Linked DNA regions of Homo sapiens: regions 2, 3, 4, 5, 6 and 7 are each reported to be linked to region 1. The links are microRNA targets in miRTarBase. Many come from high-throughput screens and were not tested one by one. Region 1 holds a microRNA gene; each other region holds the end of a gene's coding sequence.

The links. The annotated mature microRNA hsa-miR-1321 reads CAGGGAGGUGAAUGUGAU and lies in region 1 at 2,481-2,498, shown strand. An mRNA with a match to its seed (bases 2 to 7 or 8) in the 3' UTR can be bound and repressed. Matches are read on the target gene's strand: a 7mer-m8 pairs with bases 2 to 8, a 7mer-A1 pairs with bases 2 to 7 and ends in A, and an 8mer does both.
Region 2: miRTarBase lists PDPR as a target of hsa-miR-1321. Seed matches in the 3' UTR shown: 7mer-m8 at 3,245-3,251, 8mer at 3,202-3,209 and 7mer-m8 at 612-618.
Region 3: miRTarBase lists CTDSP2 as a target of hsa-miR-1321. Seed matches in the 3' UTR shown: 7mer-m8 at 2,506-2,512, 7mer-m8 at 2,480-2,486, 7mer-m8 at 2,476-2,482, 7mer-m8 at 2,472-2,478 and 7mer-m8 at 1,809-1,815.
Region 4: miRTarBase lists REXO2 as a target of hsa-miR-1321. The part of its 3' UTR that is shown has no 7-base or 8-base seed match.
Region 5: the mRNA of PISD is a reported target of hsa-miR-1321. The part of its 3' UTR that is shown has no 7-base or 8-base seed match.
Region 6: the mRNA of NFIX is a reported target of hsa-miR-1321. Seed matches in the 3' UTR shown: 7mer-m8 at 3,342-3,348, 7mer-m8 at 3,338-3,344, 7mer-m8 at 3,334-3,340, 7mer-m8 at 3,330-3,336, 7mer-m8 at 3,326-3,332, 7mer-m8 at 2,507-2,513 and 5 more.
Region 7: the mRNA of SNAP23 is a reported target of hsa-miR-1321. Seed matches in the 3' UTR shown: 7mer-m8 at 1,597-1,603.

The regions. Positions count from the first base shown.
Region 1 is chrX:85,833,352-85,837,870 of GRCh38, forward strand. It overlaps MIR1321 (microRNA 1321), which reads left to right and starts at 2,429; the gene lies at 2,429-2,507.
Region 2 is chr16:70,156,246-70,160,764 of GRCh38, reverse strand. It overlaps PDPR (pyruvate dehydrogenase phosphatase regulatory subunit), which reads right to left. Exons shown (of 19, transcript NM_017990.5): 19 at 1-4,290. The coding sequence ends at 3,886. It overlaps LOC400541 (a long non-coding RNA gene), which reads left to right. Exons shown (of 3, transcript NR_126007.1): 2 at 1,876-1,960; 3 at 4,261-4,425. Among named protein-coding and RNA genes, the nearest start is that of CLEC18C, 15 kb to the left of the region's middle.
Region 3 is chr12:57,819,639-57,824,157 of GRCh38, forward strand. CTDSP2 (CTD small phosphatase 2) reads right to left here. Exons shown (of 8, transcript NM_005730.4): 7 at 4,266-4,451; 8 at 289-4,089. The coding sequence ends at 3,964. Among named protein-coding and RNA genes, the nearest start is that of MIR26A2, 2.8 kb to the right of the region's middle.
Region 4 is chr11:114,449,430-114,453,948 of GRCh38, forward strand. It overlaps REXO2 (RNA exonuclease 2), which reads left to right. Exons shown (of 7, transcript NM_015523.4): 7 at 417-850. The coding sequence ends at 546. It also overlaps the pseudogene LOC100422382. Among named protein-coding and RNA genes, the nearest start is that of REXO2, 12 kb to the left of the region's middle.
Region 5 is chr22:31,615,799-31,620,317 of GRCh38, forward strand. It overlaps PISD (phosphatidylserine decarboxylase), which reads right to left. Exons shown (of 8, transcript NM_001326411.2): 8 at 2,693-4,038. The coding sequence ends at 3,814. SFI1 (SFI1 centrin binding protein) reads left to right here. Exons shown (of 33, transcript NM_001007467.3): 30 at 947-1,079; 31 at 1,202-1,280; 32 at 2,317-2,428; 33 at 2,516-2,790. The coding sequence ends at 2,620. Among named protein-coding and RNA genes, the nearest start is that of MIR7109, 3.5 kb to the right of the region's middle.
Region 6 is chr19:13,094,013-13,098,531 of GRCh38, reverse strand. NFIX (nuclear factor I X) reads right to left here. Exons shown (of 11, transcript NM_001365902.3): 11 at 1-3,897. The coding sequence ends at 3,883. Among named protein-coding and RNA genes, the nearest start is that of LYL1, 6.6 kb to the left of the region's middle. RefSeq lists enhancers at 365-504, 1,750-2,613 and a silencer at 2,925-3,014.
Region 7 is chr15:42,530,583-42,535,101 of GRCh38, forward strand. SNAP23 (synaptosome associated protein 23) reads left to right here. Exons shown (of 8, transcript NM_003825.4): 8 at 831-2,476. The coding sequence ends at 896. It also overlaps a transcript of LRRC57 not described here. Among named protein-coding and RNA genes, the nearest start is that of LRRC57, 16 kb to the right of the region's middle.

The DNA.
Region 1 (4,519 bases):
GAGAGGGGAATGGAGACATGTTGGTGAGAGGGTACAAAGTTTCAGTTAGATAGGAGGACTAAGTTCTTGAGATCTAATGCACAGAATGGCGACAACCGTTATTAATAACATAATGAATATTTCAAAATTGCTAAGAGAATAGATTTTAAATGCTGGCACCATGATATGGTTTGACTGTGTCCCCACAGAGATAATTGAATCATGGGGGCGGTTTCCCTCATCCTGTTCTCCTGATAATGACTTAGTTCTCACGAGATCCGATGGTTTTATAAGGGGATTCCCTGTTCACTGGGCACTCATTTCATTCTCCTTCCTGCAGCCCTGTGAAGAAGGACGTGTTTGCTTCCCCTTTCACCACAACTGTGAGTTTCCTGAGGCCTCCCCAGCCATGCTAAACTGTGAGTCAATTAAACCTCTTTCCTTTATAATTACCCGGTCTTGCATAGTATCTTTGCAGCAACATGAGAATGGACTAATACACACCACAAAAAAAAAAGTTAAGATGAGGTGACAAATATAGGAATCAGCTTGATTTCAACATTGCATAATGTGTGCATATATCAAAACATCACATTGTACTCCGTAAATATATATAATTATTTTTCAATTAAAAATTTTCTAATTAACAAAATAAAAATCACTTCAAATCCTACCTTGAGTTTACTACTTTAATATGTTTCCTATAAGCCTCATTTCCATCAAGTATTTTTTCTTTGCTCATGTGTATGTGAACAAAATCAGGAGATATATACTAATAATTTTTTATTCTGATTTTTTGTATTTAACATTAAAGTATGTACATTGTCATTTTGATTGGCTTTCTTTGATTTGCTTACAGGGAACAATTTGGAAAACAGCACTTACGGACTGTAAAGACTTTTTCCAGGAACAAACAAGACAAGAACTTTGTGCTAATATATTACAATGAACCTAGAAACATTTTTCATATCACCAAAGGAAATTGCAACTGGGGGCAAAGAATACTCAGTATTGGCTACTTTCATGTCACATAATCACTCTTATCTGCATGTGAGACAGCGTCCATAGTAGATGAAGGCAAGGGAGAAGTGGATTCTGAATGGCTTTTGAGTAGTAAATATTCAGTGTCTGTCATATTAGCTCACATGACCTCACAGGCCTTCACTAAAAAAGTGTTTAAGATTTTAAAATACTGGGCCATTGCATTGTCATCTTTATTTATGAACTGTAAGCCTGTCACTTGGGAGCATTTTCAATGAAAACTTCTCATACCTTCAATAAGTTACCCTTCAGTGACTGTTTTTGTTATTGCTTTGTTTTGAAAATTATTTGGGGATAAGGACTACCATTAAATTTTTTCTGTGGTGGGTGTGTTATGTAAAATTAAAGGGTTTAATGCAGTTTATCTCAGTTGGTTTAACTCAACATAGATTGAATCCCTACCAATTGACAAGAACTGTGCAGATCAATCTAGAAATGTACAGTCTAATGTCATTGAGGAGTGCCAAATGATATATTTTCCAAGTAATATAGAGACCACATAGCTTCTAACCTCATTCCACTCACTGAAAATGATGGCTCTAATAATAAAAATTTTCAGGGGTAGACCACTGAAGTTTAGCAACTCCCTAGATTTGGCAGCAGACAGGAAACTGAGAGGGGCACACATTACACTTGAGTTACTTAATTGAAACCTTGCTCCTCCTCCTCCCTCTTCTCCTCCTTTTCTTTTTTCATCCTTTCTCTACACTCTCCCCTTTTTGCTTCTTCTTCTCTATAGAGACCTTGGTTCTAGTGCTTTACTCTCATGTAAAAGTTTGGGAAACTCAAATTTATTTATTAGAACATTATTATTCCAAACACATTTGAGAACATCAAGTTTCTCCCCCAAAATGATAATTCTATTACTTCAAAAATGAACAAGAGAGAAGAAGAGGGGGAGGGAAGAGAGAGAGAGAGAGAGAGAGAGAGAATGTCTGAACATATAGTGGATTAGAATAACTATTTATTTGGAGGAAAAAAGTAGAGTAACGTAATTAAACCCTGAATAATATTTACTGATAGTTTTGTTATATAAATGTTTAAAAATAGAGCCGTGATACCTATTTGGGATTAACAGTAGTTCCAAAGGTAAGAATATATAGACTAATAACATAAATTTCACAAATTGTTGCATTGTGACATTAATAATATATTTCTAAATGGGAACAATTATCAACCACCGATAAACAGTCAAAACAAAGAACCCCAATTTATTCAGAGATGTGTAAAGCTGGGCACACCTCATTCATAGATTTTTTATTTTTAGAATTCTCGACATATTAAATTTTTCTGAGGAAAAAATGTATATTCATTTATTCATACTCATTTTTGAACTAACATTTATTTAAGGTCCACAATATGCTAGATATTTTATATTATTTTTTGATTACTTAATGCAAATATAGCAACATTATGAAGCAAGTATTATTATCCCTGTTTTACAAATAAGGAAATAAACTCAGGGAGGTGAATGTGATCAAAGATAGATATATAGTTAAGAAAGTTAAAGAGACAGGATTCAAGCCTAAGTCTGTCTGACTTCAAATCTCTCTTCTTCCCACTATTTATTGCTCCCTATGAGTTTATATTAATGAAATCTAAAATCCCACTTAAAACCGTATAATGAAGAAATTAAGAAAACCACCTGAGATAGTGATATAATTTTTCTAATCACTAAATATTTTTTTCTTAGCTCTTCTTGTGGAACAATATACAATATGATTCTTGGGATTGGTTGAGCATGTCTGCCTTATTCTAACTCAAATTTATTTAAGATATGTGTTTTATAGTATTCTGCTACTGGAAATATTACAAATACAGTAATAAAATATATCATTTATTAAGTAAAATAATAAGGAACATGAGTAAAACATTTTGCCTATATTATGCCAGCAGCTATGCTATGCACTGGCAACACACACAGGCTTACAATGAACCCAGAGGTGGGAGCATCTATGTCACCAGGAGAAATTTAAGGATGATTTAACATTTAAAAACTATTAATATGGTTTATTACATTAATAGATGAAAGGAGTGAAAAACATGATCAGTGCTTAGCCCATAGTAGGCAGTCAATAAATAGATGCGGAAAAGGCTTTGGTCAAAATTCTAGACCCATTCATGATAAAAGCTCCTTAGCAAACTAGAAATAGAAGTCAGCTCCCTTAACTTAATAAAACCTACAATAAACATACACTAACGGTGAACTGTTTTAACCTTACCTTTTTCACAGCCAGGAAAATTAGAAGTATGTCTAGTATCACCACTTCTGTTTAGCATTGTATTGGAGGTCCTTGGCAGTTCAGTAAGACAAGATAAAGAGTTAAAATGTATAGGATTGAAAAGGAAAAATAAAACTGTCATTGATCACAGATTATATAATTATCAACATAGAAAACTAAAAAGAATTATAGATATATTATTAGTAAGAGAGTTTAGCAAGGTTATTAGCTACAAGATCAACATATAACGTTAATTTTTTTCCTATACATCAACAGCAAATTATTATAAAAGAAAAGTTTAAGAAACAGTATATGATGCCTTGGAATACATAAAAGATGGTCAAGACTTTTTAATTAGTCAGGTAATGTTCGCTATGCTGTGGTAACACATAATCCCTGAAATAGCCATGTTGTAACACAACACCAATTTATTTCTTGCTCCAGTTACAGTTAATGTGAGTCAGGTGGCTCTCTGGCACAGCTTCCCTTTAAGAGCTGACTCAAGATTCCTGGAAGCTTCCAAACTGTGGCAATGCCATCTGGACTACTAGTTAGTTATAGAAAGGAGAAAAAGGAATGCAAGAGGCAAACTGGCTCTTAACTGCCCAGCTACCTGAACTTATCTTCAAAGTAGAGTGGGAAATGCGGATCTGAACATGGATATTTGGTGGACACTATCAGTGTCTGCCAAAAGGTATAATATTATTTAGAAAACATAGTAAAAAATTAAATAAAATGAGTGATATACCCTCCCATTCATGGATGGGAAAGTGAAGTAATATTGAATGCAATTCCAATCAAACTTGCAACAAGGATTTGCGTGTGTATGTGTGTGGAACTTGACAAAATGATTCCGAAATGTATATGAAAGAGCAAAGGGCCAAGCATAACTAAGACAAAAAAAAAAATGAGGCAGAAAGGCTGACTCTACCAGGTATCAATACGTGTTCGAAAGTTACAGTAATTAAAATAACATCATCTTAGTATAGGAATTGACAAAATAGCAATAACATTGAATATAGTCCAGAAACAGATTTCATGTATAAGAATTTAATAATTGATAATGGTAATATTTCAGATTAGTGTGAAAAAGATGATCTCAAAAAATGGCATGAGGAAAATTGGATATTCATATATGAAATTTTATGTTAGATTTCTATCTCACATAAATCCCCCAAATAAATTTCAGGTCAGTTAAAGAGCTAAAAGTTTTCTTTTTTTTTTTTTTAAAGGTATTGTATTAGGGTTCTATAAAGCAACAGAACTATTAGCATATA
Region 2 (4,519 bases), not on the chromosome of region 1:
AGGCTAACTTTCAAATGCATGCAACGGCAGGTAATATACTGTGGAAGCTGGAGGTTTACTTTTCATGTTTTAGTTACTTTCTTGCAAACAGCAGTCCAGGAAAGCAAGCAAGCAGGTAAAACTCCGGGTGTGCATGAGGAGATGATCCAAGGCCAGTGGGCCTCCCAGTGAGAACCAAACAGGAGTGGCCAGGCTCCACTCCTGGGGCCAGAGTGAAACCGGGGTTTAATCACTGGGCTATGTGGTCTCTGTGTCTCTGGCCTGAATGAGATCTCTTCAATGTCGGGGGACAGGGATCCCTGGAAGAGCGTGAAAAATACAGTGGTCACTGTGCAGTTCTCTCTGCTGGAGCCTGTCCTGCCATCATACAAGGTGCTGTGACAGCAATGCAAGGTGAAAGGAGATCAAATGGCCCAGCTCAGCAGTTAGTGTTTGTCCCTTTTTGCTCTTCAGAGTTCCTGAATGAGAGCTTTTCTGGCTTCAGTACCAATGATCACAGAAGGAACATCTTCCTGATGCAAGCTTAGATGGAAGTCAATGACCCTGGCAGTGCTAAGAACAGAAGTCACACGTGGCCTGACGATGAAGGGGAGGTAATTAAAGACATTTCAAGGGAGGGGAAGGCCCACGGAAAACTGGCAACCCTGGGTCTCCGTTTGAGGCCAATATACTTTGTGTTCCTAGGTTCAGATGGCATACACCGACAAGAGAAGGCAGAGACCATCCTTCGTGGTGAGCACAAAATGCTATGACAGGTAATTGCAGAGAGAAAAAAGCACCCAACTCTGTAAAGCCAAGTCCAGTCACCCATTCACAAGAGTCCAAAATCCTTCAAATCTCTAGGGACAGAAGACAAACGTGCTGCCCAGAATGAGCTGAGACACAAGGCAAACCCTTGGAAATGACACATGGATGAGGAGGCTGTGGTTGTCCCTCCTTATTCCTGCTGGATTTGCAGCCACGGCTCTGGATCTGGGGCATCTACTGGCCTCCCCTGTTCACTCAAGAGGCCACTGCCTCTCAGGAGTCCAGAATGCTCTGATATCTGACACCGGTGGTCAGGAAGTTATGCTGCCCTCTCCTCTTGAACAGCTAAGATGCTTGGACACTAGACAGAGGCAAAGCAGTTATGCCAGAAGCAGGGGAGAGTCATTCACTGTCAGATCTGTCTGTTCAAAGAGCTCACATTAGACCAATCACAGAAAACCACCAGACTCACACAGCTTGTATTTGAATGAACCAGGAGAGACTTCAAGGATCAACTCTAAAGTGCTAGAAGAGAAATCTGTGTTTGGGGCACTGAATAAACAAGTGATGTCCTAGAAGATCAACACCCCATCAGTCTTAGGAGTATGACCCTATTCATGGACAAGGGGTTTCAATGGACAGCCTGAGTGCTCAGCCCCCCATCCTCCTCTCCTAGCAAGACAAGCAGTCTGTTGCTCAGAGGGGGAAACTGATGTCATTTAACAGGAGGTCAGGATTTCTGGTTCTACTTCAACAAACAGTGCATAATTTTGGACACAGCATCAGATTTCCTGACTTCTTACAAAGGACAGCTAATTAAAAACGTGTCAATCTGTAGTAATTAGTTGGAGATTAACAAGGGCAGAAGAGAATCCAAGTCTTAAAACTCTATGTGGGATACATTTCTGATGAAGCTTCTATTTGACTAATATACTGTGATGATGGCACTATTCGATTTTAAACTATGGAGACAGCTTTTATTATTTCGATTTGGATCCTGGTAAGTGGTGATACTGCTATGTAACAGTTAAAGCACAAATGTATTGCCATAGTTAAGGTTGAAGAGTTATGTCTATGTGTAACTAAATTCTTCTGGATTCAATTACAAATACGTTTTCCTTTACAAAGATGGCTTTGGAGGGGTGCAAATGCTACGTGTTTGGAAGAGCAGAGGAGGCCTGCAGCTCTCAGTCACCTGTCTCCATCTTCGGAGGTAAGTCTGCTCCCTGCTGGTAATGCCTGCATCTGCCCAAGGGCCTGTTCCTCCTCTCCCAAGGCCTTCACAGCTGGTGTTCACTGGTTGGCCCTCCAGCCGGCAACACCTCTCCTCCTCTCTGCCTAGAGGCAGCATCTCTCGGCTAGTTAAGTACATACTTGCTCCAAGACAACTAGACCCCCAAACAGAATTCTAATCATATGCTCCTCTAACAAGCCAACCAGAACCTTCCAAAAAGGTTTAGGCACTAAAGTCAGTAATCACTAGGAGTGGTCTAGTTGGGGAAGTGGCAAGAAATGTCTAGAAGGAGCCAGCGTAAGTGGGTAAACAGAGATCCCAAAGAAACACCAGAGAAGGCAGACACCTGAGCATTTTAAGCTGCTCTAATGAAATGGAAGGATGTCCCTTAATACACTTATAGACCTATCAGAGCTAATGCTTCCAAGATACCAACACGCCAAAGGCTAGAGTTTTACTAACCAAAATGTCTTATAGCAGTTTATTTGCACTTAAAAAAAGTCAGATTAGGGCAGTTGATATGCAAGGGGAAAATGAAGCATTGAGGCTGGACAACAGTCCATGATATCTAAGTTTCACCTTGGGAAAACAGAGACACTGCCTGAAAGCGCAGGGCACTTCTGGGCACCCACATTGTCTCCTGCTCCAGAGGATATGGAAGGGTGGGTGGAGGGAAACAAAGAGCCTGGGGGGAAAGGAGGAAAAGCGGTCTCTAGCCTTATGCAACGTACACCCTTTGGACTCAGAACTCTCAGTGGACTAACGTGGGTCACCTCTGTGTAGCTCTGCTCTGTGCTGGAGAGTCAAACCTGGAATTCCGGCAGCTCTCTGGAACTCAGCACAGCCCGCAAGGTTGAAAGGCCCAGGACAACACACCTGATCCCTTCCCCTCCCTATTCTAAAGGGAGAGAAACATGACTTTATGGGCCAACTGTGAAAGGGACAAGTGAGGCTGACCTGACAAAGTCAAACGCACTGGGAGAAGGGGAAGGAGGAACGGCTGAACTTTGGACAGCTGAGAGAAAAGCAGCATTGTTTCCATAGCAGAACACTCAGCATCACTGGTGGGGACTTTCTAAGGTCAGACCCTTTTGACTGGGAAAAGCAACACACAAGGCAATATGGTTTTTCCCTTTCAAACACTGTGGCTTACTTGTTTACTCAACTAAGAAAGAAAAAGCAACCTTATTATAGAGATTAGCAAGAGATGAAGAAAATTATAGGGAGGCTGCCCTGGCCCAAAGGTCTGCTAATGGCTTCTGCAGGGAGGATGAGGATGGTGCTAGGTTAACTGCTTGTCTCCACTACAGACCAGAGAACGTCCATGCGATGCCTCTTATCAGTGAGGTAGATAATCATCCTCTTGCCAGAGGTATCGAGTGCCAGCCCACAGCACAGCAGAACAGGAGAACGAGCTGCCGGGCTGCAGGCACGAGCTGCCCCTCAGGGCTGCATCCGACACACGGCAACCCCACCAGAACTAATAGGCTGCTCCAAGAAAATGGAACCCAAGGGAGAGGGACTCGTGCCCTGAGACCTGCACCACCCCGGCTTGCCCTGCCTTGAGATGCAGAATTTGAAAGCAGCTGTCACCATCACTCATGTCCACAGTGGAGCTTGCTTCTGTCCTGTCAGACATACCTCCTGCCACCACGAGAAGCTGAGTGAGGGGTGGGAAGGGAAGAAGAGCCCAGAGTGAATATTAGGAGGAGGAGGTGGAAGGGCAAGGAAGGCTGCAGAGCAAAAAAGTTTAAAGTAGGTCAAGTTCAAAATTATATCAAGGAGATAAGAGATGGGAGGCAAAGGCTCCAGAAGAGGAACAGAGGCGGAAGGAAGAGAAGCTCCAAGGTGACGCCCACTCTAGGACAAGATGATGGGGAGGAGGTGAGGCTGCCCTGGTGGCATCACTTCCCATGTAAGTCACTCAGCTCCATGTCATCCTTTCGGCGCTTCTGGGTGAAGAGGGAGGCGACAGGGTAGAGCTTGGCCTTGGCCTGGAAGCGGTATCCCGCGATGTCAATCTCATACTCTCCCCGGTTGATGAAATCTGCTGTCACCACTTGCTCTTCCCCCGTGTCCTCAGAAAAATTGTGCACAAAGCCCAGGCAAACGTGGCGCTCCAGGCTGTAGCTGTAGGCACTGCTGGTGGTCTTGCCAACATACTGCCCATTCCGGTAAATGGGCTCTCCCCACCAAGGCCAAAGGTCTAGGTCTGAATCATGGTCGTCCAGGATGAACATGGTGAGGCGTTTATACACTCCATTCTGCTTCTGCTGCAGGAGGGCGTCGCGACCAATGAAATCCATGCCCTAAGAAAGAAAGGAAACGCCGAGTCATCCAGCGACACTCAGACCCTCGGCACAGAGAGCAGCACCGTGGGAAGGGTCCCCTGGTGTCACTGCAATGGGGCACAGCCGCCTCCTCCCACAACCCTGCCAGCTTTTGGGAAACTGTGCGATTTCTACCATGTGAAAAACTGCATGTGAAATATAAAAGACGCCGCGGTAATTTTTGTAACAACAGAGGTACGCATTTTGT
Region 3 (4,519 bases), not on the chromosome of region 1:
TAATCCATTCCCTTAGGGCTTCTGGTTCATGCCCAGAAGTCAATAGGACATCAAGCATATACACGTGCTAAGCACCTGACTGCAATGGGGTTGATCACAGCAGAACTTGTGTAACCTTGAGCGGAAGCCCTGTGTGGCATCTGCAGCTGGCCTCCCGGTGGGTGCAACACCCCACTCAGCCCGGGGGTGCAGCTGCTTCATGATGGAAGGGGTTGCGAGAAGAAAGGCGGTGCTTGCCATGGGCCCAGTGAACACTTAAGGGCCAATGAAGGTTGGTGGCAGCTCACATTCCTGGAAAGGTTTTTTAAACCCACTTTTATTAATTAATTGTAAGTAATACAAATATTCCAAAAATATAAACAGACACTTAATGGCGTCCTGCATTTCAAGTTTTTGAATACAACAAATTTATCAAACCATGAATCTGTAAGCAAGGTAGTCAGAATCCCATAGCCCAGTCACAGTGGGAAGCAGATCCCCTACCCTCCAAATGGCATCTTGAAGGGGGAAAGCGGCACGAAATGGAACATGATAAGCAAAAAAGCTCACGAGGCCCAAAGAGGAGGGTCCGCTCCATGGGCAGGCCCTACAACGTTAAAAGAATGGGGCAGCTGGCCCGACCTCTGGCCTCCTCTTCCCTGGCTGAATGTAAATATTTACCAGCATTTAGAAAAAAGGAGAAAAAAGACAGAACTAAACCCGTTTAGGAAAAAGGGACCGAGGGACAGCAGTGGTTAAGTAATCCACTGAGGACCTGAAGGGGAAAATGGACTTACCTTTCTCATATACTTGGCCTGGCTAGGACACTGGGTGCCAGACAGCCTTCTGAGGGGATTTTCTTTCTAAATGAGGCCTCAGGAACAGGTAGGGGCAGCAGAATAGAATAGCATCCATTTCCCAGAGAAAGACTGCCTTTACATTTCCCATGCTTTTAGCACAAAGCAGCGTCTGGGCCACTGTTACCAGAGGTGAGTTTATACATTTACAAAATGCTTAAAATCTTTGGGAAGCAAGAGGAAGCTAAACAGAAGGTCCCATGTTAACTGAAGGCAAATTCACTCAACCTCTCTAGTAAGGGACCCATGGGCCTACAGAGTGTTCCCTCTACAATGTGCAGAGTGGAAACCCTTACCTGACCCTTTTCCAAACTGGTCCTGTGTCCAAAGCTCCCCCTATGAGAGGGACACGAACATCAGGCTTTTGATTTAGAAGCCCAATCAGAGAGACACACTGTGTCCCTGAAGAGGCACCTTAAAAGAACTGAACCTGGCAGGTAGGCAGATTCCTGGCATGGCTTGAATTGGTGCTGACCAGGCATGGTGGCCTATTGCCTCCCAAAGACCAGTCTCAAGTGGGAGGGGCTGATGGTGGGAAGCCCTAGAAGAGAGTCTGGGATGAAGCGGCCTCCTCCCTGTCTTGCCCTCCAAAATTGAGTCTGGCCTGATTCCTTTGAGGAGCAAATTTTACAATCATCCCTCACCCTAACACACGGTGAAACTGGAAACCCGACAGCAAATAATGACTAGGCTGGCTCTGGTCCACAAGAACAGACCCTGGCTAGGTTTGGCCGAGTAGCTTCTCTGGGGCAAGTGGGAATGGCATTGTTGGGGGGGAGTTGCAGGTGGGCAGGCAGGGTTCTGATGGGAGTGAGGCCTAAAAAGCAGGGGCTTCATGCAGATGCAGCAGGGACACTCCCACCAAGCCATCCTGGGCTTTGGTCATGGGTCCCACGCCAAGCACTTGGACAAGTCTGTTAGGAAAGGGGGTGGCACATGCTCTTCCGCCATCTGGAAAAACATGGAGATCCAAGGGAGGGCGGAAAGGGTCCTTGCAACTCAGTCAGCTTAGAGCCTCTTATTGCTTATTTAGTCAGAAAAGCCTGGCTGGGCCTAGACGGCAAAAGATTTGGCCAAGGGCTAACCCTTAGGGTGGGGCTTGGAAGAGAGGCCCCTCCTGCAATATTAGGATAGCAGCCTAGGTCAGGCCTTGGGTCCGAAGCCACAGCTGGCTCTAAGAGTCTGAGCTCCTGCTTTCCTTCAAGAGACAGTATATTTCTGGCTAGCACATGGGGTCCTTCTCCCTTTAGGTACACCGGGACCCCATAGGCACCGGGGAGTGATGCTGGCGGAAATGGCCACATGAGTTCTGGGGACTCTGTTCCACTTTATGATTCCAAAGAGAAAGACAAGGCCTTATAACCTTGGGACAAGAAGGGAAGGTGGCACCACAACGCTAGAGAAAAATGCCAGCCAGCCACCGCTGAGAGCACGAAGCTGCTGCTCTACTACCTGCTTTTCTCAAAACTTGTTAGTTCCTGAGGCTGGATCTAGGGTGTGGCAATGGAAGGGATGATGGGGAAGAGTCCTGAGTGGGTGGTGTCCCTGCACCTAAAGCAATTCACAAATGCTTTGTGATACCTGCCTCCAGGGAACACAGAGATGGGAACAGGAGCGCCCTCCCACCCCAGGAGGAGGGAGGGAGGGAGGAGAGAACCCCACCCACCCCAGGGAGGCCACGATTAAGGCAGTGATGCTGAGGTGGGGCTCCTTTTTGGGAGGCCCCTTGTGCTCCCAATTACAGCAGCACTTCCTCTTATTTTCCACCCTGGGAAAACTTCCATTTCGTGATGACTTTAATTTTAAAGCATTCACTATTAAGAACCTTTGAAAGCAGGAGACACCCAGAGTGCAGGTCTGAGGGGCTCACTCACTCCTGTTACCAGAGGCAGAAAGCATGCGCATTAGGCTGGCAAATGGCAAGAACACTCATTCCCCCTCAGCCCAGGAAGAGCAAGAGTTCTGAGGCCCTTAAGAGGAAAAGCAACAGCCAGGAAGGATGAAGGCTGGAACAGACAGAGCTCGGTACAGGACAGGCCCTGGGGGAAGACACAACAGGAAAAGAGCCCTGCCCAAGAAATGGGAGGGGCTGGGACAGCTTAGTTTTTCCCAGCCTTTGGAACAGAAGTCCTTGCACCAGCACCAGCAGAGAATCCCTGAAAAGCAGACTTATGGAAATGATCCCGAGCTTAGCTGATCCACAAGCCATGGGGACACACGTCCACGCTTTGAGGATTTGTCTTTTCCCTGCAACCCCAGCGCCGCCGACATTCATTACAGGCCCAGGACTGTAACTTTGTCAGAAACAAACCAGGCCCAACACTCTGTGTTTAGAAAGAGAATTTTAAAACACAGTCAAAAGAACGGAAATCAGTTATCTGTCCTCTTCCCGGGCAGGGAGAAAACCTCCTTCCCCACAGGTTTGAGACTATGGCTAGGTGGTGAGGAAGGCAGGCTCAGCACCCCAGCCTTGGGGAGACATAGAAAAGGCCTATCCCAGGCACTCAGCCGGAGGCAAGCATAGCCTTTGGGCCACAAGACCTGATGGCCACTGGATGCTGGTCTGGAAACAAGTTCTCATCTTCCCAGAAATGTGATCTTTTGTCTGCAGCAGCTGGCTGGAGAAGGATTTCAGAAAGGTGTGTGCCTGGAGTACCCAAAGGCATACCCTTCCTTTATCCTTGGCATAGGCCTTACAACACTGAGGAAAGGCCATGGTTTGGCAATGGAGTCTTCAATAGTCTTCATCCCTACACAACTCAGTGGCTCTTAGGGTGACAGGAGAGGAGACAAGCTAACTTGGGAAGAGTCTTGGTCTTTCAGCTTCTCCCCCACTGAAACACTATACACTGGGGCCACAGTTCATGGCAAAACACACACACAAACACACACTCTCTCACAGTCAAACACACATCTCAACAAGTTGGCGGCAGGTAGCTCTGGGTATCATTGGTCTGGCATTCGCCCACTCGGCATCTAAGCTGTCCTAAAGCTCTTTCCAGTTACTTCCCGCTGTTTCCGGGCCGTGTGGTGAGGCACTCCAGCTTCTACTCTGTCACGCTGATCGTAAAGGCACAGTGTGGGAAAGTCCCCTACTGGGATGGCCGTCGCTTGGAAGCAGGGCAGGCTAAGGGGCCCGCAGCTGCCCAAGGCTGGTGTAGACGTCCTCTGCTCCGCTCAGCTCCTCAAAGATTGGGATCAGGTTCAGCAACTCAGTGTCTGCCATGTCATCAAACCAGGACTGCACAGGCACCTGGTGGGGGGAAGATGTGGTGTCAATCTCCCGACTGCTGCTTCCCCCTCCCTCGCCCCAGAGCCCTAGAGGGTGGCTGGGTCTTCCTGGAGGGGTGTACTTCTCTGGTGGAGCCCACAGTTCCAGTCTGCTTCCTCTCCCAATCCCTACCGTGGAGACGCATCAGGAGCACTCACTGCATTCTCGGGGTGGAATATGTAAGAAGCAGGCGAGTTGTCCAGGATGAGGGTCTTTCTCAGGTCCCTCCCCAGGCGGCTGAGGTCCTTGACGTAGCAGCCCTGGTGGAACACGCAAGACTCACGGAATAGGCGGGCCCGGAACACCCCACACCGGTCCAGCAGGTCTGTCACAGGGTCGGCATACTAGGAGGAGAGAAGATGCCTTAGTTTGGATACACTCCTGGTCCTCCTGTATAACCCTAGGGACCAAA
Region 4 (4,519 bases), not on the chromosome of region 1:
AGAAAATTAATAAATTAGAAATATAGGACAGCTTCCTTTTGGGAATTCATAATACACATTAGTATATTAAATGCTTTGCAACTTTTTATTTCAGTAAAAAGTTTACTCTAGTTTTTCTAAACTTATTTGACCGTGGAATTATTTTTTCTCCCTGTGGAACATGTCGCCATCTTTTGGAACAATTTGGGAAACTTTAATCTTCTATATTTTACAAATTTTTTTGTCAAAAGTTTTTAAAAAACAAAGCATTTAAAGAAAATTGCTTTTCTGAAATGTTCTACTTTTGATGATGCTAGACAGTGACACTTACAGTAACATCCATTGTTCTTAAGTCGTTTTTTAAAAGTTGTACTTTTAAAATGATTTTCATCTCCTGGTTTTGGACAGTTCATTCATTGTGGTATGTTTGCTTATAGGGCACTTGATGACATTAGTGAAAGCATCAAAGAGCTTCAGTTTTACCGAAATAACATCTTCAAGAAAAAAATAGATGAAAAGAAGAGGAAAATTATAGAAAATGGGGAAAATGAGAAGACCGTGAGTTGATGCCAGTTATCATGCTGCCACTACATCGTTATCTGGAGGCAACTTCTGGTGGTTTTTTTTTCTCACGCTGATGGCTTGGCAGAGCACCTTCGGTTAACTTGCATCTCCAGATTGATTACTCAAGCAGACAGCACACGAAATACTATTTTTCTCCTAATATGCTGTTTCCATTATGACACAGCAGCTCCTTTGTAAGTACCAGGTCATGTCCATCCCTTGGTACATATATGCATTTGCTTTTAAACCATTTCTTTTGTTTAAATAAATAAATAAGTAAATAAAGCTAGTTCTATTGAAATGCAAACCTTTTTGTACCATCTATTCTTTAGTAGTTTAATTATTGGGAAAAGATGGCTTTTTCTTTTTTAAGTGATATGGCTAATGTTTAAACTCTTGTAATGCAATTAGGAATCGGTTAATAAGTTCATGTCAAACAGGAAGTGAATATGTTTTGCTTTAGAATAACCGCAGATAAGTTTAAAGAAGCAGATTTGGGCTCGTTGTTAGAGTTATTGAATTAACAGCACTGGACTAGGCTACTCTGCTACATTCAGGAAATTCAATTCAGACGGATTCTGTAACTAAGGTTTATTGCAAGTAATAATTAGGGCTTATTTATATGCACAGCAGTGACTGCTTGGTTTACAGAATGTAAATAGCTTGCTGCCCTAGTTCTAATGGTCAGTAAGTAGCTGAGAAAGGATTTCAATTCGAACATACTAATTCCTAAGTTTACGTATTCTAGACCACAGTACTAAGGTGATTTCCTAGCCAGAGTGTGCAATAGAATCATCTGTAGAACACATCTCATTGCTTTGTGCACCTCATTCTGACAAATTCCCCTTGAAGACAAATCAGAATTGGGAAAGGCCCACAGGTTACTTTCCTTTCCTTGAGAACCACTAGGTGAGAAGACTTCTGTGGTGATGTCAAATTACATTTCATATTACAGATATGAACATAGTAGCGTGATCCTGATGTGTGATAGTTACAGATAGATCACTAGCTAGTAGATCAGAATAACCCCATAATATTTTCATTTGAGTAACATTTTAACATGTACTAAGTTGTGTTACCTACACTACAGCTGTATCAGTGGAGAGAGGGATTGTAGTGTAACTTTTTCCAAATGAGTGAATTAAGACTGAAATTCATGAGTCTACTAAGAATGAATTTATGAAAACATAAGTCTGCTGATCTTTTTGACCACTTCTTTCTGGAATGGCATGGGTTTTAGCTTATGCACCAACTTCAGTGGCTTGGAAGGCAGGATTGGGTAGTACAGTTGACCGTTGGACAACACAGGTTTGAACTGCAGAGGTCTACTTACATGCAGATTTTCTTCTGCTTCTGCCACTCCGGGGACAGCAAGACCAACCCCTCCCCTTTCTCCTTCTCAGTCCACTAATGTAAAGATCATGAGGATGAAAACCTTTATGATGATCCACTTCCACTTAATGAACAGTAAATTTATTTTCTCTCCCTTAAGATTTTCTTAACTTTCTTTTCTGAGAGCTTACTTTATTGTAAGAATATAACATATATATTGTTCCTGATGTTTGTATAAAAAATATATTATCTCTTACATATAACATACAAAATCTATGTTAATTGACTTTATATTATCAGTAAGGCTTCTGGTCAGTAGTAGGCTATTAGTAGTTAAGTTTTGCGGGAGTCAAAAATTATATACAGATTTTTGGTTGCACAAGGGTTTGACACCCCTAACCCCCGTGTTGTTCAAGGTTCAACTGTAGTTAAGAACAGGGCTCTTGAATCAAACTCTTAATTCAAGTTCAGGCCCCTGACATACTGAGTGACTTTGGCAAGTTGCTTTTCTAAGTCTCAGTTTCCATATCTGTAAAATGAGGTTAATAACGTTACTTAATGAATTGTTAGAATTAATTTAAATGCTATTCATACAGTTCTGAGCTCAGCACAGTGAGCATCGTGTAATGATAGCTAATGAATATTGATAATAAAGGGTACTATGATTAGTTATGAGGCTGGAGGCATTATCTTAAATCAGCGTTCACTTAATGCCTATGACTGCCTACATTGTGCTGAGGACTGTAGTAAACTTCACTAATAGTGTGACCTTGACTTGGTTTAGTGTTTCCAACTAAATTTGGCAAAAGGGTCTTTGCCCTTACTTGGCTTTCAGGAATGTTAAATTCTAATGTGATGATAGATAAGAAAACACTGGGCTTAAGAAGGGTTCGTAGGAACCAGATACTGCTATTAATGAATGCCTCAAGGTTTCTTCCACACAACTGGCTGGTTTATTCACCTGTTTAACTGTTCAAGCCAGTTTAAAAATTTTTAACTCCTGGTGTTACTGCTTTAATGCTGTCTTCTGTATCTTAATTGTGTAGCTAATTCTATTGTCCTTTAGTGGAGCTTGTGTTGAATTTTAATAAAATAACTGGTAGCCTGTGAGTTAAGCAAAACCAGTCTAGTGCAGGTATATATGAAGACATGCTGGTTCAGTGATTAGTTCATTATTTTTAAGTATTTTTAAGTTAAATTTAAATTTGTAGTGCTGGTATTTAGGATTTCACAGGGGATTCCTGAAGCTATGAAGTAATTTCTGTGAAATGAACTGCAGTGCAAATTGGTTTAAATAGAACTACAGCTTGAAAAATGATCAGTATATTTGCTTAGTAGAGCTTGCCATTCTAGTGCTCTTGGGGGGCCTCTCATTTGCTGGTTCGTTCGGTGCAGTAATTGTCCTGCAAGCTATGTTCTTAGGATCGTCCAGGTGTATTTCCCCCTATTAAACTCAAGGTGAATGAATCAGTACAGATGCATTTTGACTTACAGTGGGGTTACATCCCAACAAACCCATTGTAAGTTGAAACTATTAAGTAAAAAATGCATTTAATAAATTTAGCCTACCAAACATGTTAGCCTAGCCTACCTTAAATGTACTCAGATCACTTACATTAGCCTATAGTTGGGCAAAGTCATCTTAACAGAAAGCCTATTTTATAATAAAGTGTTGAATATACCATGTAACTTAATACTGTAGAGAAGGTGAAAAGCAGAACGGTTGTATGGGTAGTCGAAGTACGATTGAAATAGTATGAGCAGACTCTAGCGCTCTCGCCAAGACACTGAACAGCAGTGCTGCTGCCTCCTGCACCCAGAGTGTTTGCTATTACCTGACCTAGAACATCTGGAGCCCATAGATCCTAAAGAGCAGCTTTTTGAGGAATGCAGGGCTGTCGTGGATACTTAACTTCCCTGGTTCCAGAGAGATTTTGTGGATCTGAGGACAGACTCCAGTAACTACCTACCTATTAGAGTCATGCAATGGAACAACTTCATCCAAGCTCTTGGAAAGACAAAGACAACTTTGTACAATGCCCTGTTGAAACACTCAAGTGAGAAGAAAGGAAGCTTCTCACGCTAGAAGAAATCCTATTCTACCAGCCTGATATATTGTGCCTCCAAGAGGTAGAACAGTATTTTGAAACCTTCCAACCACTCCTCAGGAGGCTGGGCTATCAAGGCACATTTTTTTTCCCCCAAGCCCTGGTCATCTTGTCTAGGTATAGAATACAACAGTGGACCAGACAGCTGTGCTTAATTTTTCCTCCAAAACCAAATCAGGCTAGTGAACAGTGCCAATATTAGGCTGATGGCCATGACATTGAAAACTAATCAGGTGGCCATTGCACAGTTCCTAGAGTGCAAGGAGTCAGACCAACAGTTCTGCATCGGTGTCACCCATGTAAAAGCACGCACTGGCTGGGCGTGATTTTGATCAGCTCAAGGCTGTGACCTTCTTCAGAACCTGCAAAATGTCACTCAAGGGCCAAGATTCCCCTTGTTGTTTGAGGGGACTTCAATGCAGAACCAACACAAGAGGCCTAGAAACACTTTGCTTCCTCCAGCCTCAACCTGAACAGTGCCTACAATCCCCTGAGTGCTGGTGGGCAGTCAGAACCCCCATATACTACCAGGAAGA
Region 5 (4,519 bases), not on the chromosome of region 1:
GAAAGAAGGAATCCAGGCTGATGTGGGCTGCTGGCTTGAATAACTTGGGAAACAGAGTTCTTTGACTGGAAGAAGGAACTGGGGGTGGGGACTGGTTTGGGGTGAAGTGTCAAGAGTGTTTTGAACCAGGCTCTTGATGTCAAATTTGAGAGAAAGCAAACGTTGAGTCTGACCTTCAAGGAAGAGGTCAGGGCCAGAGATTGAGAAGAATCTTCAGCACAGGCCGAAGGTAACCCCAGAGCCACTGCGGCCTCTAGGAGGAGAGTACAGGGGAAGGAGAGAGGGGAGGAGGCTCCAAGCAGGGAGCCTGGGTGGGGATGGCCAGGGGGTGTGAGAGCTCAGTAATGGAAGTGACAGCTGCTCTAAGGCCACCAAAGCAGCTGGTTCCTGAAAGGGGATGAGGGGACAGGAAGGAACCAGTTCCTGTGGTGAGTTAGGCCATGTGGGGCCACTTACCCTGGCTGGAATGGTTTGAATGTGGGTTTGAAAGGGTTTTGACCCCTGTCCGGTGATGGAAGGGGCAAGTCCACTCTCACCAGGAGAGGAGGGCATGGAAAAGGCTGTAGAGCAGTGGCCTCTCACTGACCACTTCTCACTGATGTCAAAGCTCAGCAAGGTCATGAGCTTAGAGCAGGTGGGGGTGGAGGGTTGGGTAAGGCAAGGCTAGGAACAGCTGCTCAGGCAGTGGAGGCGTGAGGCGGACTGTGGTGACACGGGGTGCTCCCTGGTTGCTTGCGGGACTTTCCCCTACAGTACCAGGCCCTGTGTGCAGGGGCAGGCTAGACACTGAGCTGGCACGGCCAGTGCCTGGGAAGCCCAGCTCCTGCAGCTGGGAGCCTGGTCTTCCCCCACCCCTGCAGGGCAGGCAGTGACAAGGACTTGGTGTCCCCCTCCCTGGCTTCCTCCTAGCTTCCTTGCTCAGCATCTACCCTTCTTTCCTTTGCAGGTGTCAGCACAGCGGGCTACTCCTAGGGATAAGCCCCCGGTCCCCTCATCCCTGGCCAGTGTCCCTGACCCCCATCTACTCCTTCCTGGGGACTTCTCAGCCACCAGGGCTGGGCCTGGACTTTCAACTGCAGGTGTGTACCTGGGGCCTGTCAGGGCAGAAAGCACTCAGGCCACTCCCGGACCTGGGACTTGCTATTTACCCTGGTCCCCGAGGGGAAAATAGTCTGAAACAAGCTTACTTCTGTCGCCATAGGCAGCCTGGACCTTGAGGCTGAACTTGAGGAGATCCAGCAGCAACTACTGCACTACCAGACCACCAAGCAGAACCTCTGGTGAGCCCTGCGAAACGCCCTGCAGCCCTGGCTACAGGAGCAGGTGTTGCCTGGAGAGGTGGGCAGGCAGTTCCATTTCCCCCGAGCCAGCTGCCAGGGTCCTGTAGGTGGTCTCGGTCTAGCCATGGAGGGGTGTGGGGAGCCCTCAGTGTGTGCTGTCCAGAAAGACCCCATCTCCACCATGGCTCTCTACCCGGCTCAGTGCTGCTTAGGAAGGCCCAAGTCGTCAGACTCACCTGTGCACAGAGGCTCTGCTTCCTATGGGGGGGACGATAAAGTTGAGCAAAACTCTAAAAACCCGATGAGGCCATGCTGTCCCCAGTGACTAATTATAACACTGATATTAAAGGTGCAGAGAAGGGCCAGGCGCAGTGACTCACACCTGTCATCCCAGCACTTTGAGAGGCTGTGATCCAGGCAGATCACGGGGTTAGGAGTTCAAGACCAGCCTGGCCAATATGGTGAAACCCCATCTCTACTAAAAATACAAAAATTAGCCGGGCATGGTGGTGCACGCATGTAGTCCCAACTACTTGGAAGGCTGAGGCAGAAGAATCGCTTCAACCTGGGAGGCGGAGGTTGCAGTGAGCTGAGATCACGCCATTGCACTCCAGCCTGGGCAACACAGCAACACTCCATCTCAAAAAAAAAAAAAAATGCAGAGGAGACAGGCCCGTGACTCAGCTGCACTCAGTGGTCTGGGGACCATTCAACATGCAGCAACCTCAGAGCTTCCAGGGCAACAGACTGGCGCCTCATCCTTGGCTCTGCACAGGGGGAGAGAGACAAGGAGTGTGTTCTTGCCCAGGCCCACCTGAGTTGCTGTCTGCTGGGGAGGGCGGAGGAGACTGGGAGAGGAAAAAGAACAAGTGTTTGGCTCCCAAGCAGGGGCCTGCAGTTCAGGTCAGGGGCCCTACCAGACCACCTCTCTCCACCCGATACCCGCATCAGAATTAGCTGAGGTGCCTCTCCCTGAGCCGGATGGGGCTCTGCCAAGGACCCAGCCTGGCAGGCAGTGGGTATCTCCACCCCTCAGGTCCTGTCGGCGGCAAGCGAGCAGCCTGCGCAGGTGGCTGGAGCTGAACAGAGAGGAGCCGGGGCCTGAGGACCAGGAAGTAGAGCAGCAGGTGCAGAAAGAGCTGGAACAGGTGAGGCCCCAGGCCATCCCCAGGTGTCCCTGGGGACGCCCCGGGCTGTGCTCCCTCTCAGCCCTGCCTGTCCCTCCATGGCCCCAGGTGGAAATGCAGATCCAGCTGCTGGCAGAGGAGCTCCAGGCTCAGCGCCAGCCCATTGGCGCCTGCGTTGCCCGCATCCAGGCCCTGCGGCAGGCCCTGTGCTAGCGTGTTCGCACCAGGAACGCAGGTGCTGGGCTGTCGGGGAGGCCTCAGGCCACCTCCAGGAACAGAACACAGTTTTAAGTTTGATTTTTTTTATTTCAAAATGCTTTGCAATTAAATGAATTACTGTTCAGAAGTCTCCCACTTTTCATACAAAAATACTGTGCTACTGATACAGTTGAAAAAATTCAATGATGTCTCTCCTGCAGGAGAAATTCACAGCATCCCCAGGGTCAACATGAAATCTGGCCCTGTCCCCGCCACTGGGGGCTCCCCAGGCCTGCGTTCCTGATAAACTGGGACAGGTTTTCCAGGCACTGACCAACTATCCACCAAGGGTCCTCTGCCTCCAAGACAGACCCTGAATCAATAGCAGCAACTTTCCCATATTTCATGTAGGGATATGTGGAGGGGGACAGGAACTCTCCCATTTCCCCAGCTGGGCCTACTACCTGCCTGCCCTGTTCACTCTGGTGCCATGAGGCAGGTTCAGTGATTGATTGGTCTTGCCTGCTGCAGAGGACCTGGCCAGCTCCAGAAGGGTCACTCATCAGGTCCTGCAAAGGTCTGTATCATTAATCAGTGTCATCAGTGTCCTCAGAAGACACTAGCAGAGTCCAGGGTGATGCGTTCAGCCACAAGCACAAAGACTGCTTTTTCTAAAGAGCAGGATGAGGTGAATGTGGGAACGGAAAGCAGTTGTCACGAAGGCTGTGTGGCTCTGCTGGGGGAGAGGCATCCACAGTCTGTGCCAAGGAGGCACCTCACCCTGTGCAGCAGGAGCGTTAAGGCCAAAAAACAAAAGGGGCCAACAGAAAACAGCTCAGGTGATGGGGGGAGGAGCAGCAAGAAAAAACGACAACCGAGACCAACTGAAGGTTCGGTCAGGAATGCAGGCTCTTCCGTCTATACAGTGTTTAAAAAGATCCAAATGTGACTGAGATCATTCCAGCCTGCACTTTTTATTTGTAGGCAGAAGGAACGGGATAGGTTGAGGGGCATGATGGGGGCTCTCGCCACCTCTTGTCTGCACCTCTGGAACAGGTGGTAGCCGAATCATTCAAGTCCTACCTGGTCAGACTCCCAACCACGCTGAGGCAGGCCCTTACCTGGATGGCCTCATGGGCCTCCCTCTTGAAAAGACCCTCACTCTGTTTGGAAAAGATCCCTTAGCAGCCATAATCAGGAAAGAGACTCTAGAGCGAGCCCAGGGCTTCCCCAAAGCGGATTTTCTGTCCTGTTTTCAGCTGGAAATTGAAGTCCTTGGGGGCCTCGAAGATGAGCACGATGGTGGAGCCCAGGTTGAACTCGCCCAGGTGCTCGCCCTTACGCATGGGGACGCCCTCTCTATTGGTGTGCGTCACGAAGCTGAAGTCATTGTAGGAGCCCTTGCTGTGCCTTGGGCTGTTTGTGTGCAGGTCCTGTGGTGATAGGCTGGGGGTCAGTGGGGCCCAGGCCACCAAGTGCACAGTGTCACCCCCACATGTGTTTGGAGTCCCACTCCCTCTGTTGCTTGTCCCCACCACCACCCAACCCAGCTCCAAAAGGGAGGTGGGGATGGCATCTCAGGGCCAGGTGGGCCTGCTCTAGCCAGATCTCACACACAGCCTTGACACCTGCTGTGAACTGGGCCCAGGGAGGACAGGGAACAGTGGGGCCCAGTGGTCTCCATGCATGGTGCTGGGAGAGCAGCACCCGTGGGAGCCAAGGCCGTTGGTCACAAACTGACACCCAAAAAGGCAGCCCCTGGGGGCAGGGTGGGCAGCAGACCTGCGAGTGCTGACCCCTCATGCTGTAACCAACATGAGCCACCCCGAGCTCAACACTCCCTTTCTGTTCCCTCCTCACTCTCACCTTTGACCATGGTTCCTAGCAGAAGCCAGGTGCCAGGCAAGGAGGTTA
Region 6 (4,519 bases), not on the chromosome of region 1:
GAGACCAGGCTGAAGGAGGAGGAGCAGAGGGAGGGGGACGCTAAGGGGGAAGCACACCAAATCCATTAGTACTATATATAGAGATACTCGTATATACTGCGTTTCTTAGCCTAAGAAGAAACTTGTTTGACGGGACGGGCGGCCTTTGCGGTCCGCGATGCTGGTGCTGGTCGGGCGCACGGATCTCCCGGGAGGGGCCGAAGCGGGGCTGGCCCAGGCTGGCTTGCGGGGGGAGGGGGGCGCCCCGAGGGTGGGTGGGGTGGGGGGGAGCAGAGGCGGGGCTGGGGTGCCCCTCGGGCTCTCGATTGGGGGACGAAAGTTCTCGTGACTTTATTGCTCCTTTATTTTCTCTCGTGTGGGGGGGTCTGTTCAGCACGGTCAGGGTGGGGGAGTGGTGGGTCGTCTGAGCCACCCGGCCCCTCTGGGACCCAGAGCGCGGCGTCCGCTCCGCCAGCACGGGGGTGAGAACAAGGCACTAGGTCGGCCGGCCAGCGCGGGGGCGGGTGTATAAGGCAGTCGACAGGGCTGGTTGCGGGGTGGGGCGGGGCTGTGTGCGGGGCCGTGTGCGTGCGTGCGTGCGGGCGCGGGCCTGGGCAAATCGACCTGTCAGCGTGGCTGGTCCTGTCCTGGAGCGTCGAGCCTTCCCGGTGTTCCCCGGAGGGGGTCGGGGATAGGATGAGAGATGTTGAATGGGGGCGGGAGGGGCGCCGGGAAAGGGGGGAGGAAACTACCAACTTGCTGAGCGCGCTCCTGATAATGCTGGTGAGGGTCAAGTTGGCGTCTGGCTCAAAGAAGGGCGCTCGGGGCGGAGAGGGAGGGAGGGAGGGGACGTTTGTTCGTTGGCATTGACCTCTGCGGGGGAGGGGCCGGGGACCCCTGCCGCGCCCCCGTACCCGGACGGGGATGGGGCGAGGAGGGGTGCTGGGCCCCAGGGAGGGGCGCCCGGGGAGACCCGCGGCCGGAGCAGTCCAGCCGCCGGGGGCACGCCGCTGTCCCGTTCCGTTAAACTCAACAAAGAAGGGATATGCGTATTCCTAACAAGTGCAGGATATTTAATTGATTCATAAACTTATGTATAATAGTTTGTGGGTTCTTTAAAACGTACTTTATAATGTAAGAAGCACCAGGGTTTTATGTTTAATTATCTTAAAAATAATTTTTCTCTCGTCCTTTTCCTTTTTGATCTTGTGTTGGTTGATTTTTTAAATGTCGAGGTGTTTTTTTTAAACTCTAAAATGTGAACGTTTCCTTCAGCCCTCCCACCGAAACAGAACGAACGACGAAACAAATAAAAACCCCAGATCATCCTCGTCAACGCAGGAAAACGACTTAAAAAAAAAAAAACTAAAAACGAACAAAAAAAAGGGAAAAACACTCAGCTTTCGTTATCCCCGCGCAGGGCGGGGCAGGCCCGGTTCTTTTAGCGTCCCCAGAGCCGCGAGGACATTACAACAAAAATAGAATTTTTTTTTCTTAATCTCTTAACATACAAAGATAGGAAAACTCTCTGATGCATTGCACTTGGTTCAATGAAAAAAAAAAGTTAATTTCCCCCATATATATTTTTGTTTTTTTTTTTTTCTCTCCTAACACGTCCCCACATCTCCTGTTGCCCTCATTGCCCCTCACAACACCACTTGGGAAAGGAGCAGCCCCCACCCCCTGCCCGCCCGGGCAGCCCCGCCGGGCACGCTCCGGCCCGGGCCCAGCTGGCCTGCAGCTTCCGACCTCGCCCGGGCAGGCGCCCCGCAGACCCTAGCTCCCACAGTCCCACAGAGCCCGAGCCCTCGACTGTCGTCGAGGGAAAGGGCACGTGGGCCGGACAGGGAGCCCCTTCTGCTTCGCTCTCAGCTCTGACCCTGTTTAGCCAACCGAACTGAAAAATCATTGCACTTTGACCGCGCGTCACGCCCGGCCCACCCGGCCCCCCACCCCCGGGGCCTTACTCCCCACGCCCCGGGAGACTCCCGCAGGATCCACTGCCCCTCAGCCCTGGGGTCCTCTAGGGCTGCACGCTGAGGACAGGGGGAGGGCTTCACTCAACTTCCAACAAAAGCCGCCCCTGGAGCCAGCCACCTTGTGGCTTCCAGCTGGGTAGCAGGCACCGTTCGCCTGCCGCTACGGCCCCAGGTCGCTGACCTCCTCCCCTCCCGTCACTCCCTCCTCTTCCCTCCCTCCGCCAGCTCGGGGCCACAGCCTCACAAACTAGATTCACAATAAATACAGCCCATAGCCCACCCCTACGTGGTGCAATGTTGATTTTCTCTCAGAGGATCCTGACCTGTGCTTTGTGTTTTCATACAATTAAGAAAGAGAGAGAAAGAGAGAGGCACAAGGACTCAAGAAGGGGCCAGGAACGGGAGACGCAGGAGGAGGAGTAAGGCACAGAAAGACAAGCCAGAGGGGCCAAGTCACACCCTGGAGGGGAGCTGGGCGTGCTCATCCTCCCCTCCCTCCCAGGGGGGCTTCTGAAGACCCTCTGGACAGGCCCCCCAACCCTCCCTTGAGGGAGGAGGGGGCTGGGGGGGAGAGCTACTTCCTGTGGTGTGTTACCAAATTGTTCCCAAGTTGCTCAAATGGAGGAGGAGTTCCCATTCCAACAGCAAAAGACCCAAACAATGAATGCCCCACCCCTAAATAAAGAGTAAAGACATTACAGCTAAAATCCAGAGAAAAGTGGCCACGTGGGGGGCGGGGAGGCGGGGGAAAGTCGGGGGGCACAGAAAGCTCCAAAACACTTTTGAAAAGGACGACACCCAACACCCTCCCAAGGAACTGAAAGTCGGCGAGCAGGACGCCTACCTAAGCGCAGGTGGTGGCTTAGCGCGGCAGCGGCGGCTGCCTGGTCCTCCTCGCTCGGCTCCGGGGTCCCCTTTCTGCTCCACCCTCCGGCCCGGCCCCAGCAGGGCAGTCTGCATGAGGGGCAGGGGCAGGAACTGATGGGGCGGAGCGAGGGCACCTGCATGCAGGGCTGGGGGCGGGGGCGACCTGGGGCCCGACTCCCCTCCCTCGTGGCAGGAAGGAGGCCCTCCTGGCCTGCAGAGAGAGGGGAAAGGGGGCCTGTCCCAGGCTGGGACGAGGCCGTCGAGAGCATTCCGACTTTTTCCTACGGACTGTACAGAGGGGTCCAGGGCCCCAGGACTGCTCTTGCGGCTCAGGGTGGGGTGTCAGAACACCCTCCATTCTGGGACACGCAACTAGCTCCAGGGGTCACCCCCTGCCCGCCTGGGGGCTTTTAGCCCAAGGGTGGGGTGGGGTAAGTGGAGGCTGCTCTCCCCCTCCTGGTCGGGAGCAGCTGGGGGAAGAAGCTGGAGCCTTGGCAGAGAGGGAGGGAGGGAGGGAGGGAGGGAAGGGCGGAGTCTGGAGGGGAGAGCCTGAGGGATCTAAACCCCATCATCTTTACAAGCTGGCCCTCCAGGCTCCCTAGGGCAGCTCCGGCTGTGTGGAGGGTGGGGTTCCCCTAGGAAGGGGTGAGGGTGGAGGCCAGGCCCCTTCAGAATTGTGCTGGTTGCTTTGTTTGGGGACTTTGTTCCTTCCCCAGAAGGCCGGGGCGGGGTCAGGGGGAGGAAGGCAGTTCTGCATCCTTTCTTGCTTTCTGTCCTCTACTTGACAGAGTCCATGTCGCGTGTTTCTTTCTGCTTGGCTGCTGGTGCACAGCTCCACCGAGACCCCTTCCAAGGGCTCTCTGAGAACTGGGCTGCTTCTGGGGCCCGCGGGGGTCCCCGGGCTGGAGGAGAGAAGGGCTGAGTGGCTGACGACGTGTAATTTTTGCTTTTCGGTGGGGCTGGGCTGGGCTGGGGGATTTTTCCATTCTCAAAATTTCTTCTCCCCCCTTTCGAGGAACCTCTTCTTCTCATTTTGTTGTTTCTTTTGTCGATCTTATCAGAGGAACCAGGACTGAAACAGGATGAAAAAGAGGCGATACTGAGAACAGCTGGGGCAGGTCCCATCTCACTCCTACCTGGCCCAGTGACCTGGCCCCTCAAGGGTCCAGCTCCCAAAGAGCCAGGGTGCCGGGCAGCCACCACCCACCTTGTTCCCATGGAGAAGAAAGGGCATCCCCATTCTCTCCCTCCCTCCTGCGAGAACCCCGCCCCCTCAGAGACTCTGCCCCTAGTGCTAGAGTCCAGCTGGCCTTCCCGTGGGCACTGTGCCCAGCGGGTGGGACCCCCATGGCTGGCGCTGGCACAGGCCTGAGATCTGGCCATGTTTCCAATTGTTTAGGTTTTTGTGTGGGTCCTGGAGGGTGGGGAAGATGCCAGGCTGGGGCTTTTGTACCCAGAGGGGTTTTAGGAATGGGTTGGGGGTGGCCCAGCTTCTTGCTGAGTTTTCTTTCTGTCTCTTTGGATTAAAAGCAGAAATTCCCATCTATATACCCCAGCCAAGGTCCCACAGGCTGAAAGACTGGGGGCAGGGGAACCACACAGCTTCAGTCCCTAGTAGCGCCAGGCCTGGGGGAGGGGCCACGTAGCCCATGGTGCTGGATCCTCTACCCTCAGGGCACCAGACATTGAGGAAG
Region 7 (4,519 bases), not on the chromosome of region 1:
ACTAAAAAAATTTAAAAATTGACCAGGCATGGTGGCATGTGCCTATTGTCCCAGTTACTCGGGAGGCTGAGGCAGAAGGATTGCTTGAGTGTAGGAGTTGAAGGCTGCAGTGAGCTGTGATTGCACCATTGCATTCCAGCCTGGGCAACAGAGTGAGACCCTTTCTCAAAAAGAAAGGAAAAAAAGAAAGTCATACCTCATTAAAATCTCAGTGAACTTTAGGGTGAGTTTTTAAGCTTGGCTCTCTGTTAAATCACTTTTGATGGATTTAATTGAAACAGTGGTTCACAAGATGCTTTAAATGCTGCAGTCTGGGTTTAGGCTATATTTACCTGTCATTTTAATTCAGATGTTGGTGAGGATGGTAATAGATTCGTTTCAAAGATCTTTGGAAAGGTTATTTCAGTCTCTCCAGGTTAGACTTAGGGTGTCTGAATCCAGATGAGATTCTATGATTCAGTTCAGAGGACTCACACAAGGTCCAGATCTTTAACAGAGAAGAGCACTCTTTCATATTTCATTGCATCAAAAAATGCCATTGATTACAGGATGCATCCCAGTTTCAGGCATGTTAAACTATGAAAAAATGCGTTATAGAATTTATGAAATATTGGCAAGGTCTTATATGTTACACCTTTGTCATGTTTATATACCAGGGGTTTTCCAAATGAATTTCATATTCTGTTACTTCTTGCCCAACATGAGTTTTGTAATGTAACTTCACGTGGTTTCTTGGATTTTCTTGGTGTGTCAGTTACTCCAAGTGTAAAAAGTTTAATTTTTATTAGAGTTACTTACCTTGTAAAGCTGATATCTTTCTTGTTTTTCAGGCTGACACCAACAGAGATCGTATTGATATTGCCAATGCCAGAGCAAAGAAACTCATTGACAGCTAAAGCTACTGCTGTTCTTCTTTATCATTTATTCACTTCCGTAGCTCCTCCTTGAAAGTTATTACCTTTTCAGAGTTTAAGTTTTCGGTTCCACGCTCTTCTAATTGGGAGATAATATGGAAGAAGGGCCAGAGCAGTTACAGCCCTCCTTCTTTTTTGTTTTCTGTTGAGGGCCGACTGCTGCTCTGCCTTCCTTCTAGTATTTTCTTTCTCAATTCATACGCTTAGATTGGTTTTCATATGTCATGTTTAGTGTTTTCATCCTCCTCATATACTTCAGCAGGTTCTTTTGCTTTCAAGATTTGGAAGCATTGCCAAAGACAGCCATGAAGAAGGAAGCTGTAGAGGTGTTTTTTGTTGTTGTTTATTTTTGCTTTTGTGGTTGAGGGAAGGACAAGAGATAAGAGGTTGTTACCTCAGTAAAAACCTTCAGGCCACAAAGCAAAAAGTTGCATAGCCACAACGAAGATCTAGTTGGATATAGTTTTTGATTTAAGTTGCAGTTATAGCCAATTTAGGCTAATGCTTGGTTTTGGAGCTTTTATACACAACGTTTTTGTTAGGCATCACAGTTTTGCAACCTCTGCTCCAAAGAGAAAAATAGAATGAGTTTTCTTTCTTTTTTTTTTTTTTGGAGTCAGAGTCTCGCTCTCTTGTCCAGGCTGGAGTGCAATAGCGCGATCTGGGCTCACTGCAACCTCCGCCTCCCTGGTTCAAGCAATTCTCCTGCCTTGCCTCCTGAGTAGCTGGGATTACAGGCGTGTGTCACCACGCTCGGCTAATTTTTGTATTTTTAGTAGAGACAGGGTTTCACCATGTCAAGCTGGTCTTGGACTCCTGACGTCGTGATCCACCCGCCTTGGCCTCCCAAAGTACTGGGATTACAGGCGTGAGCCACTGTGCCTGGCTGAGTTTTCTTAAAGTGAGCTTAATTTCTGAACTCTTAGTGATTCATATATGTACATAAATCTGTGATCCCATTTCTTATTGCACCATTCAGGAACACTTTATATAAATGAGTGGCTTTTTATTTCATATTATTAGTAGTATCATGGTTCCATTACAGGCCTATTAACATCATACATTGTCATTAGTCTTTGAAGAAAAAATATGTAAATATATATGTGTAACATGAGAATTTCTCTCTAAAGCAGGGCTTAAAATTTTTTGGAAAAGTTTGACAAAGCATACCACATGAATTCAGATTTACCTCAATGCTAAGAATTATGTTTAGTTAGGAAAAAGGAAAGTCATTTTGACCTCAGGTAGAAAAATAGATTGCTTTGAGTTTTATGTAGCTTTAGACTTTAAAAAGTTAGAATTTATTCTGTAACTAAAAATTATTTGAAAAAATTATGCCTCTGGTTTAATTATTGGTGATTACACACTCTTTCTCTTACCCTTGTGTATTGAACTATGTCCATAATCAAGTTGATGTGGATCCTGAAAAGTGTTATGAACATCTGATTGGTATTTGTCACATTTATTTTAAAATTAGCATCTGAACACTTCAAAGCTGTCAGTGTGTATTGGTTTCACCAATAACCACTGCTTGATCCTTACAATTAAATTTTTTAACTAACTAATGGTATTGTTCTTTCAAATAGGTAACATGTTTCTATGACTGTTATTTGGGGGAAAATAGTTTCATCAGCTCTCATTTAACAAATTAATAAAGCAAAGATCCATACATCAAGAAACACTACAGCAGGAAGCTGCCTTTAGCATCTTTCCAGTATTTATTGAAAATATTGATGGGACTTAAACTTACCTTGCTAAAAATTTATTGTGAGGTTCATTTTAATCATTACTAGTCTTACTCACTTGAGCTTAAATACACTAGTGACTGGAAGGGTAATGGTTCTGTGTGAGAACTACAACTCACTGGAGAAGATACAGTTAATGTGGGAGCTTTCAAAGGCTAAAGAGGAAAATATTTAAATAAAGTGAGATGCAACTACACCCTCTGTAATAGAAATGCTCCATGTCAAAATGAGTGGTTTGGCAGGGATGGTAAATATGTAAAGTAAGGTGTAAAACGGAGGATTGTGCTTTACCTAAATGCCTTTCCTAAAACCATTTACCATAAAAAAAAATTTTAGCACTGTTCTGGATAAAGGAAATAGTTCTGAGAATACCAGCATGCTACACTCACAGTATGATTGGTTAGAAGCATGGGCTGAGGCATTATCTGAATTTTCACTCTAGCTGAAGTGACTGTAAGATCATTTCTGTGCCTTAATTTGTCTGTAAATGCAGATTAATACAAGCATACCTCAGATACTGAGGGTTCAGTTCTAGACCACTACCATAAAGCTAGTATTGCAATGAAGTGAGGCACATGAATTTTGGTTTCCCAGTGCATATAAAAGTTCTGTTTACACTATTCTGTAGTCTATTAAATGTGCAATAGCATTATGTCTTTAAAAAGCAATGTATATACCTTAATTTAAAATACTTTACCATGGGCCAGGCGCAGTGGCTCACGCCTGTAATCCTAGCACTTTGGGAGGCCAAGGCAGATGGATCACTTGAGGTCAGGAGTTTGAGACCAGCCTGGCCAACATGGTGAAACCACATCTGTACTAAACATACAGTTAGCTGGGTGTGGTGGCATGTGCCTGTAATTCCTCTACTGAAGTCTCTTTTTTGTTTGTTTTGTTTTGTTTTTTTGAGAAGGAGTCTTGCTCTGTCATCCAGGCTGGAGTGCAGTGGCGTGATCTGGGCTCACTGCAACCTCCACCTCTCGGGTTCAAGCGATTCTCCTGCCTCAGCCTCCTGAGTAGCTGGGATTACAGGCAGGCACCACCGTGCCCAGCTAATTTTTTTATCTTTAGTAGAGACAGGGTTTCACCACGTTGGTCAGGCTGGTCTCGAACTCCTGACCTTGTGATCTACCCGCCTCTGCCTCCGAAAGTGCTGGGGTTACAGGCGTGAGCCACCACACCCGGCCTCCTCCACTGAAGTCTTCAAACGCCCAGTCATCCATGAGGGTTGGAATCAACTTCTTCCAAACCCGTGTTAATGTTGGTATCTTGACCTCCTTTCATGAATCATGAATGTCCTTAACGGTATCCTTTCCAGAGGGTTTTCAGTTTACTTTGCCCATATCCATGAGAGGAATCACTATGGCAGCTATACCTTTATGACATTTATTTCTTAAGCAATAAGACTTGAAAGCTGAAATGACTCTTTGATCCAAGGGCTGTAGAATGGATATATTAGCAAGCATGAAAACAACACAACATTAATCTTGTACATCTTCATCAGAGCTCTTGGGTGACCATATACTCTGATGCTCACTATCAATAAGCAGTAAGATTTTGAAAAGAATACTTTTTTTTCTGAGCAGTACTTCTCAACAGTGGGTTTAAAATATTCAGTAAATCATGCTGTAAACAGATGTGTTATCATCCAGGTTTCATTGTTCCATTTATAGAGCACAGGTAGAGTAGACTTAGCATGATTCTTAAGGCCCCTATATTTTCAAAATGTTAAATGAGCAATGCCTTCAGCTTGAAGTCACCAGCTCTATTAGCCTCTAACAAGAGAGTCAGCCTGTCTTTTGAAACAAGCTAGGCATTGACTTCTCTCTAGCTATGGGAGTCCTAAATGGTGTCATTTTC